2 separate regions of the Homo sapiens genome follow, and region 1 is linked to region 2. Evidence: fine-mapped expression QTL. Tissue or cell type: lung. Region 2 holds a variant in brackets; the other region holds the start of a gene. All regions are shown on one strand. Distances are from middle to middle.

Region 1 (5,224 bases), 21 kb before region 2:
GGCAGTGACTGGACCCTATTTATCTTTGTATGTTGCAGAGTATTTCCATATCCTAGGTTATAATTATTTGCTGAACAAATGAGATGCATAGAGGGAAAACATCCTAAATGAAATGTTGTACATTATGCACTGACATTTTCCCTCCATGCATGTCTTTCTCTCCTCCACCAATGGATATTATGGGCTGTTTGTGCAGAGGCTGACTTCCAGCCATTGATTCTGTTTGAGAAAAACCACCGTCTTGTCTATAGATCAGTGTTTGTACAGGTTGAGCATCCCTAATCTGAAAATCTGAAATCCAAAATGCTCCCAAATCCAAACTTTCTGAGCACTGACATGATGACCACAAGTGGCGAATTCCACACCTGACCTCATGTGATGACTTGCAGTCAAAGTGCAGTCAAAACTTTGTTTCATGCACAAAATTATCTAAAATATTGTATAAAATTACCTTCAGGCCATGTGTATAAGGCATATAGAAAACATAAATAAATTTCATGTTTAGGCTTGAGTTCCATCCCCAAAGATCTCTCGTTACGTCTATGCAACTATTGCAAAATCCAAGAAAATCCAGAATCCAAAATATTTCTGGTCCCAAGCATTTTGGATAAGGGGTACTCAATCTGTATAATCATTTAAACACTTGACCACTTTGGTTTTATTAAAGATTCGAGGAAATTGAGACTACGATGCAAATTATTGGTTGTGCTAACAGTGATAAACTTTTATCTCATTATATGTGTTTACTCCTTGAATTTAAGACGTTCAGCTGTAAAAAGAAAAAGAACAAGACATTTTGTCAAAAATTATGCCTAAAGGGTCAAGTTGTCATGAGAAGTGCTATAATACGACAAATTTTAGAAAGTCCCCCCCACTCCCTTTACAACATAAAAATGTAGTTTTTTATTTTTGTTTTCAGTTCATAAACATTTTGGAAACGCACTGTATCAGAAGGTAATTAGCGGCATTGTTTGGAAAGATGAAAAATTTATTAGAAAAGATCTTTAAATGGCTTTTACTAAAGCGTCATTTAACAATTTTTCATATTATAGAAACAGCTTTTCATGGATGGTGTGACTGGGTCTGTATCCAAACCCGGTTCGGTTCCTGGAGCCAACGGCGTAGTTAACACTCAGCCTCTTGCAGTTAACACTCAGCCTCTTAACTGGGAGTGGCCCTGGAGCAAGTCGCTGGAATGTTCAAGCTCCGCGTCACTCATCGGTACCAAGTTGATGATCTCTGCCTAGGGTTCTTCGCCACCCTCAGGCTCAAGTCCCAGGAGGCCTCCTCCGCTGACTTGGGTGAACAGCTCTGAGTTCCGGAGAGGGTTCGGTCTGCGGAGAAGCGCGCGAGAGACAAGCATCCTCAAGGTTCTGGTACAAAATTTGGAAAATGGACCTGGCGTTGAAATCTTTACTCCTCGTTTAAAAAGACCATCGAAAGGGAAAAAATAAAAGAAATTGCAGTTTATATTTTTGTTATCCCATGAAAAATTAGCTGCAGTGTTTTCCTCTTCATGCCAAAGAGATTAATATTTACGGTGAAGACTTTTCCAGGAAGTCGTGGTTTTCTGTAAAAAAAGGTTTTACACATCAGAAATCGGACTTCTGGGGCAATTTCCTGAATTCCTGGAATAAAACAAAACAAAAAAAAGCCCCCAAACAAAACTCTATCATCTAAAGCGTTCCCTCCTCACTGTGGTCCTAGTCAATGCGTGGTAGGTAGCGTTTCCAGTGATCAACAAAAGTAAATATTTGACCAGTAAGTCTCCAATCGAGAGGCCCCTCCATTCCAGCTATTTCCGCCCGGGGACCGAGGAAATCCTCAAAAGCCGGGCCACGCATTCCCAGCCCGAGAGGCCCCAGCGCAGAGCGCAGCAGCCCCCGCGAGCGCAGGTCCTCCCCGCGGTGGCTTCGCCCAGGGCGCTTGGGTCTCGGGGACCCCGCCCCCGCCCCGCCCGGTGTTACTCAGGCCTCGGTGGCGCAGGGCGGAGTCGCGGGCGGCGGGCGCAGGTGGGGAGGGGCGGCCGGAGCGCGTCGGTGACACCCGCGGGGGGGCGGGGAAGGCGCGGCGGCCGCACCCCACCCTGGGAAGAAACCGGCCAGGTGTGGCCTAGGCGCCCAGTGCCAGCGGGGAGGAGACTCGCTCCGCCGCCGACCAACACCAACACCCAGCTCCGACGCAGCTCCTCTGCGCCCTTGCCGCCCTCCGAGCCACAGCTTTCCTCCCGCTCCTGCCCCCGGCCCGTCGCCGTCTCCGCGCTCGCAGCGGCCTCGGGAGGGCCCAGGTAGCGAGCAGCGACCTCGCGAGCCTTCCGCACTCCCGCCCGGTTCCCCGGCCGTCCGCCTATCCTTGGCCCCCTCCGCTTTCTCCGCGCCGGCCCGCCTCGCTTATGCCTCGGCGCTGAGCCGCTCTCCCGATTGCCCGCCGACATGAGCTGCAACGGAGGCTCCCACCCGCGGATCAACACTCTGGGCCGCATGATCCGCGCCGAGTCTGGCCCGGACCTGCGCTACGAGGTGACCAGCGGCGGCGGGGGCACCAGCAGGATGTACTATTCTCGGCGCGGCGTGATCACCGACCAGAACTCGGACGGCTACTGGTGGGTACCTGCCCGGAGAGCGCGGGCTGCGGGGCTCGCGGGACAGGGAGGGACCGTCCTCCTCTGGACGACTGGGAGACTCGGGTCCCGAAGGTGGAAAGGTTTTTTTGCCCCAGGTCCCGAAAGAACTTCCCGGCCGCGCTGGGAGCAGGACCGGGTGTCCTGACGCGTGCGGGGACAGGTTGGCCCCTGTCCTGCGAACAGGGACTCGGTCGTACCTTTCTCCCCTCCCGCGAGCCCGGGCGGGTGGTCAGAGGGGGCGTCGGGCCCGCGCGGGGCTGTCCCCTGCCTGCTGGACACGGCTGCAGCCGCCTTTGTCCCAGCCCGCGAATGGGAGGTCAGGCGAGGTGGGGCTGCGACCACAAAACCCAACCTCTCCAACCGTAATCAAAGTAAAAGAGGAAAGGAGCGGGGCCCCGGTCCTGTCTGGTGGCCGAGTGGTGCTCGGGGCTCCGCAGTCTCTACCGGCTCACCCCCAATCCCCAGTAACCCCGAGACCACGACTGCAACGACTCCTGGACTCCTCGGCCACCCAAGGACGTTTGTATCAAGGCTGCGCGTCCCGGCGGCGCGGGGTCCTGTCCCGAGGAGGCGCTTCGGCTTCCCCTGTCCGGGAAACGAAACTTCCCCGCCGGGGCGGCTGCCGGGCCCGGGTCTCGAAGTTCGGCCGGGACGTGCCTGTTACCTTCGGTCGTCCGCGCCGCAGCCCCCGCGGGCGAGCGCACCTGGGGCCCTGCCTCTGAGCCTTTTGTTTCCTCCTTTTTAAAAACACCGGATGAAAGACCCCAGTGTGCCTTGGATCGCAGAGCGCCGGCCGCATGTCTGCTTTGATCCAGAATGTGTGGGCAGGGGAGTGGGGGGGTGGGAGAGGACGACGCTGGGGGCCCGCCCTGGCCTAGGCGCCCCGGGAAGACCCCCCGGTGAGAGGGTCAGCTTCTCCGGATCCCAGCGGAAACAGACCGAGGGCGTCATTTGGGTGGGTGGGGAAGAGATCCTGTCCCTGCTTTGACCGGGTCTCGGGAGCTGGACTCTAGATGCCCACGTGAGCCGTGCGCGTTTTGCAGCCCGCCCCACCTCCCCGCCCCCTGCTAGTTGTTCCCACGTCGGGCTTTTGGGAAAGAGGCCCTGAGCGCCGGGACGTTATTTACCAGGCGTTGTGGCCCTAGGCCTGGGAGGAGCAACCTGAATGCGCTCCAGGGAGTTTTGTTTTGCAAGCAGTTTTGAAGGCAGGGACTACTCGAGTTGCAACCTGTTTTCTGCTTAGATTCATTTATTTATTTATGGGGCATCCTGAAAATCTATTTTCGCTTTTTTTTTTTTTTTTTTTTTTGAGTTAGCAAAGAATTGTCTCAATCTTGGAGTTCTTTGTTTCCTGAACAAAATGTGTCTGGGGATTTCCAGGGAAAATGTGCCAAGCAATAGAAGGAATGAAAACTTGGGTTTTCATTACATTTGTTTTAAAATTTTGCCAGCCATTTAAATCTGAAATTTAAATTTTCTCCCGCAGTCCTCCAGGATTTGAGATGCACATCCTTTAAATGTGTGGGTTACACACAGTTTAAATCCAAGTCAGAATAGAATGCGAAGGACTCTTTAGTAGCTCTTTTTGGCGTTTTCATGAACCAAGTATTTATTTTGATTATTATTTATAACTATGCTTTTGCTAGCTTGGATTTCTTATCTTTTAAATAGACAATAATCAGTACTATTAATCGAATATTTCACTCCCTTGGCTTCTTATACCTTTTGTAGGGGAGTAAAACTTTAATAAATTAAGTGGTTAATGAACTGCATCAAGGTACATGTTTTATTAGGATTCCCCATTGAAACATTTAATTTTGGGCAGGCTCCATGTTTTTTCCTTGTGTAGTATCATCCCGTGCTCTGTTTTTCCAACTTAAAGCCTACTTACAAACTTGTCAAGTCTCACATCTCTCTGGGAAGGGGAAAGAGACCCAAGTGAAAAATTACCTGACTTTGAGGAAGGATGTTTTTTCTTCTCATTAATGTTGCTCTGCCCGGCAGCAGGGCGTCAAGCTCAGGGCTTGAGTCGGGAGGCGGTCATTCTTTCCGGGGATCCTGGCAATGGAGGTTCCTCTCGAGCCTGACCCAGCCTGCAGTGGTGCTACTGACTACAAAATAGCCCACAAATGCTGACTTCTGCGTTTTCAAATAATAGCGACCGCCTGAAGGCAGGGCATGTCGCAGTTTTTCTGGTGGCATTCTGGTTTTGTGTGGAGGGATATGTTTGGCTGTGGCGTGCACTTTGTAGAAGCAGGGTGCCCTCTGTGCCCAAGGGAGCCACTGCTCTCTGCTAAGTGAATGATGATTAAGAATTTCATAAGTATTTTTCTGACCCGAAGGTTTTCTAAATAAAGGTTTTTGTGGTTTTCTTTTCTTTCTTTCTTTTTTTTTTTTTAGCATGAAAACTAGTATAAAAACTATTGGTTGACTTTAAACTCATTTATTTCAAAAACTGCTACTTTATGGCTGAATTATTAATAGATTGGTGATTTTTGAGATGAGTGTTTTGTATCTAGCCCTTCCCTGAATAAAGAAATTTGAATGTGTGGAGGGCCCAACTCTTAGTTTTCCTTTGAAAATGACTTTAAAACATCTCTC
Region 2 (5,224 bases):
TTTCTTAGTATGACAGTTATAAAAAAAGACAGCCTGTAATTTGTCATTTTTTTGTATTTATGTTGGGTGTAGCTTAAGAATGTAGTAAATGCTCAATGTCTTTAAATTTTGGAAAAGTATTACCACATGAATTCAGTTTTATGTCATTTTCTTTTTTTTTTTTTTGAGAGGGAGTCTCACTCTGTTGCCCAGGCAGGAGTGCAGTGGCATGATCTCGTCTCACTGCAACCTCTATCTCCCGGGTTCAAGCAATTCTCCTGCTTCAGCCTGCCGAGTATCTGGGACTACAGGCGTGTGCCACCATGGCAAGCTGATTTTTTGCATTTTTAGTAGAGACGGGGGTTTTGCCATATTGGTCAGGCTGATCTCGAACTCCTGACCTTGTGATCCGCCCGCCTTGGCCTCCCAAAGTATTGGGTTTACAGGTGTGAGCCACCACGCCCAGCCAGTTTTATGTCGTTTTCTAACAGAAGCAATTGATAAGCGATGCTTTCCGGGTTAGGCACGCAGCCCTCATGGTTGCAAACAAACTAAAAGCTGTTTGATTGCTTACTGCAGGTTCGCTCTGGGATTTGCTGTGGCTCCTTTCCTCTTATCGCTTGTTCCCCTGCATGCTTTACCTCATTCCCAGGAGACTGAGCTGCAGGGCCCAGCTGATAAGGGAACTGTTGCCCCAGCAGCCAGTCAGGAGGCAGGCACTCCTGAGCCAGGTTTTTGTTTTGTTTTCCCGATTTGTGTTTGCCGATGGACAGGTCAGATACGATACACCTGGCTGGTAATGAGACGCCTGAGCTGGAGCCTGGTCACGTTGCTAATGTCCCACTGCACGCACCTGGCTGTCTCTGGTTTAAAGCCGAGACAGCTGTGGGAGAGAAGGGTCAAAGTCCCGGGTAACCTTCTGTTGTCTGACTCTGAAATGGCTCCCCTTTCTGAAGCCTTGCCAAGTGTATTAGAACATGGATGTGGCTTAGAACAATGTGTTTTATGTTCTTGCTGCAATCCCAGATTGGAATGTTTGCCCTTGGCATGTCCAAGAGATGACACAGGTGATTTGGAAATTTACATGTACTCATGCAAAAGAAGGGTGAGATAATGGACTTGCCCCAGTGTGGAACTGGCGGAACAGTGTGTGTGATTCTTATTGTGAAACATTCTTAAATTTGAGGCTCAAATAATAAATTTAGTCAGATTTAATTTTTTAAAAAAGGTAACTTAAGTCCACAATCCTAATATTGCCAACACTCATGGAAATTGAATCCTTGAGTAGATATAGTGACTTCCCTTTGAAGTGGCCCATAGGGAGTTTTGCATCCTAAAAGGGAATGGTATATCCTGGATTTTAAAAAGCCAATAATTACATCCATCAAGACAATATAAAGAAATAAACAATGAAAGATGCTTTTAGGTTGACTATTTAGTTTGGGGAACAGTGTATGATTGCATTTATTTAATGATTTTTTTATGCACATTTAAGAATGATTAAATGAGTATTTTATAACATATCATACATATATATGCACACATATGTTCTGTGCACATGCTTGCTTGCCTGTGCACAGGTAGATTTGGTTTTTTTTTTTTTTCAGAAGACATGATCTTGGTTTTCAGGTTCCCATTTCTAAATTTCCTTCTCTGCCCATCTTGAGCTGGGGTCAAGCAAGTTGAGGGAAGTATTTGGCAACCCTGCATTAGCCATTTGGGAACCTTTAAAAAATATTCTGGCTTCAAAAATACTCCATATTTACATCTTTGGTTCTATCTGAAGTAAAGCCGTGATGGTGTGCGTAAGTGAAACAGGTGCAAAGGGGCAACAACAAAGGGCGCCTCTCTTTGTCTTTGTGTCGCAGGCGGAGATGGACATGGTGGCCTGGGGTGTGGACCTGGCCTCAGTGGAGCAGCACATTAACAGCCACCGGGGCATCCACAACTCCATCGGCGACTATCGCTGGCAGCTGGACAAAATCAAAGCCGACCTGGTACTTGTCTGTGTTTCATTTTAGAGTCTTCAAAATATCTACCGAAGGATCGTGTAATTACTCAATCCCAGGGAGTTTCTTCTGAAACATTGCTATTATTTCTTTCCCAGAAGACTGGAAATGTTTAGAAATCCCACTTCTTAAATGGGGAAGTGGAATCAGTAGCCCTATTAGAGATTATGTTAACACTTGAAGAGGAGTTAAACCAGAGGCTGAGG[T/G]TGTGCAAACACTCATTTGCAGTTTGTGAATAAGTCTCTTTAGGGGTGGCAGTTTGTTTCTGCGGTAAGCAGAACATCTTTTTGAATAGGGGAAATGCAACAGTCTTATACAGTAGTTTGTGTCATTGGTGAATCCTTTCCTAGGTGGTAATTAAAACATTATTTCTACTGAGCAAAGCCATATGTCATCCCGACACCCGCTCCCATGCTGAAAAAAGTCAGACTTGAAACTGGGTTGAGAATTACAGCATAAAATCATAACTGATCTTAAGTGCTTAGTTTCCCGCAGGTCTCTACACTTGTAAATCACTAAACTTTTTTTTTTTTTTTTTACCTGAGACCATAGCTTCTCATCCTCATTTCTTCTTCTGGCTTTTTGGGGCTTACTTTTGTCCACCTGAGCCCCTGACCAACTTTCTCCTTCATTTCTCTAAGACCTAGGGAATCCTAAATGATGTCTTTAAACTTTAAGACAATTTTCTAACACGTGAGTCTTTAAGTGACCCTGATCTGGGCTTTCCTTTGTGGAGACGGTGCTGCCAGGCCAGCAAGGGTTTGCTTTCCAACCGCCTAGGAAAAAGTCCCCATGGGTGAAATATCTCATAGAGCTAGTAATTCTTTCTTTCTATGGAGGGATCTGAGGCCAGTATCTGAAGAAAAGGAGGCTTAGAAGGGCCACTCTTTTCTATACAATCCACAAGGGGATTTATATCTACCTGCTTTTTGTTGTCTTCTAGCGCGAGAAATCTGCGATCTACCAGTTGGAGGAGGAGTATGAAAACCTGCTGGTAAGCTGATTTATTTCTCAAGTGCATCGACTTTCTGTTGTTTCCAATTCAATTCAGTTCAAGAAATATCAAGCACATCCTGGCGGGGAGGCACCTGTTCATCGATGCTAATGTTGTTGCTGCTGCTGAGTTTCCTTTAGAAGTGAATTTTAAAAGTTGTTTTCTTTTCTTTTTTTCTTTTAAGTAGAGACAGGGTTTCACCATGTTCACCATGTTAACCAGGGTGGTCTCAAACTCCTGACCTCAAGTGATCCGCCCGCCTTGGCCTTCCAAAGTGCTGGGATTACAGGCGTGAGCCACTGCGCCCGGCCTAAAAGTTGTTTTCAGAAGTCAGTCCCTACTGCTGTTCTGTTTTCAAGTTGTGTCACATAAATGGCACTTGTTAAGTACTTGCAGTTGAAGCAAGAAAACGTTGCCACTTGTGAATTGTGGTCTTTTTTACGAAGTGTAAGCAAAAATAAAAGTTATTTTTCTCAAGATAGAGGTCTACCAGATCGTCATCACAATTTTATGACACTCAGTCATATCAGTTACTTGATTCATAAGAGGAGAGATTTCCATTCTTTTGCCTATTTGTGTCATCATATCTTTACTTTTTAATGTTTCCTTGTTGGCAATGATACTTTTTAAATAATGTCACTCGTGGTGACACAGTGATTTTCCTATTGGGCTGGGGTGTGACTTATGGCACTTTGAATTTTTGGGGAGAAGGTAGGAAAAGCTTGATTTCTCTAACAGTCCATTTTCCCCCTTATAGTCCAAAACTAATTATTGATGGGTACAAAAATACAGTTAGATAGAAGGAGTAAGTTCTAATATTTGATAGTACAATAGGGATATTATAGTTAATGATAATTTATTGTATATTTCAAAATAGCTTGAAGAAAATATTTGTAATGTTCCCAACACACAGAAAAGATAAATGTTCGAGGTGATGGATATCCCACTTATCCTGATTTGATCATTATACATTGTATACATGTGTCCAGATATCATGTGTACCCCCAAATATGTACAACTATATCAGTAAAAAATACCAAAAAAAGACCTTATTTAGAAGAATAAAAAAAATTTAAGGCCAGGTGTGGTGGCTCACGCCCATAATTCCAGCACTTTGGGGGGCCGAGGTGGGCGGATCATCTGAGGTTGGGAGTTCGAGACCAGCCTGGCCAACTGGTGAAACCCCGTCTCTACTAAAAATACAAAAATTAGCAGGACGTGGTGGTGCATGTCTGTAATCCCACCTACTCGGGAAGCTGAGGCAGGAGAATCGCTTAAACCCGGGAGGGGGAGGTTGCAGTGAACCGAGATCGCTCATGCCACTGCACTCCAGCCTGGGAGACGAGAGCGACAGTCCGTCTCAAAAAAAAAAAAGTTGCTGCCTTCTTGTTCATTGCAGATTTGGATGGGTCTTTTCCCATACCAGGTGGTCAGTGAATGCACAAGGTTAACATTTTTCCTATCCGTGTGATTTTTTTTTTAAAGGGACCACAGGTTTAATCTTTAAACCTGCAGAGAACACCAGTCACTGCATATTGTTATTTTAATGCTGCCTTTGAACCTCCTGTGCAGAAAGCGTCCTTTGAGAGGATGGATCACCTGCGACAGCTGCAGAACATCATTCAGGCCACGTCCAGGGAGATCATGTGGATCAATGACTGCGAGGAGGAGGAGCTGCTGTACGACTGGAGCGACAAGAACACCAACATCGCTCAGAAACAGGAGGCCTTCTCCGTAAGTTCACCCCACGCGGCTGTAGATGCTTGTCTTGAGCCTGTTGCCTTGAAGAGCTGGGGTCTCGGGGAATGATTGGTCTATTAATAATTTAATCAGCCACTTGCAATTCAGCCTTCTTTGAAATGGTCGTGAAAAATCCTTCCTTCCTGAAAACTTCTCCGTGTGGAGGCCATTATCCTTAGCAAACTTATGCGGGAACAGAAAACCAAATACCACATGTTCTCACTTAGGAGTGGGAACTAAATGATGAGAATACATGGATACATCGAGGGCAACAACACACACTGGGGCCTTTCGGAGGGCAGAGGGTGGAGGTGGAAGGAGGGAGAGGATCAGGCAAGATAACTAATGGGTACTAGGCTTAATCGTGGGTGATGAAATAACCTGTACAACAAATCCCTGTGATACAAGTTTACCTGTGTAACAAACCTGCACATGTATCCCTGAACTTAAAATAAAAGTTAAAAAGAAAAAGAGGGGCAATACCTTGTTTAATATCCCAGAA

Evidence for each region. PIP is the estimated chance that this variant, and not a neighbour inherited with it, causes the effect.
Region 1: it holds the start of DSP, and the variant in region 2 is fine-mapped to the expression of DSP in lung (GTEx, PIP above 0.99).

The regions. Positions count from the first base shown.
Region 1 is chr6:7,539,484-7,544,707 of GRCh38, forward strand. It overlaps DSP (desmoplakin), which reads left to right and starts at 2,188. Exons shown (of 24, transcript NM_004415.4): 1 at 2,188-2,602. The coding sequence starts at 2,433. DSP-AS1 (DSP antisense RNA 1) reads right to left here and starts at 3,600. Exons shown (of 2, transcript NR_183331.1): 1 at 3,563-3,600; 2 at 968-1,570. RefSeq lists an enhancer at 1-176.
Region 2 is chr6:7,560,805-7,566,028 of GRCh38, forward strand. It overlaps DSP (desmoplakin), which reads left to right. Exons shown (of 24, transcript NM_004415.4): 5 at 1,848-1,976; 6 at 2,932-2,982; 7 at 4,555-4,716. Among named protein-coding and RNA genes, the nearest start is that of DSP-AS1, 20 kb to the left of the region's middle. RefSeq lists an enhancer at 123-1,698. The variant T/G (reference allele first, on the strand shown) is at 2,195.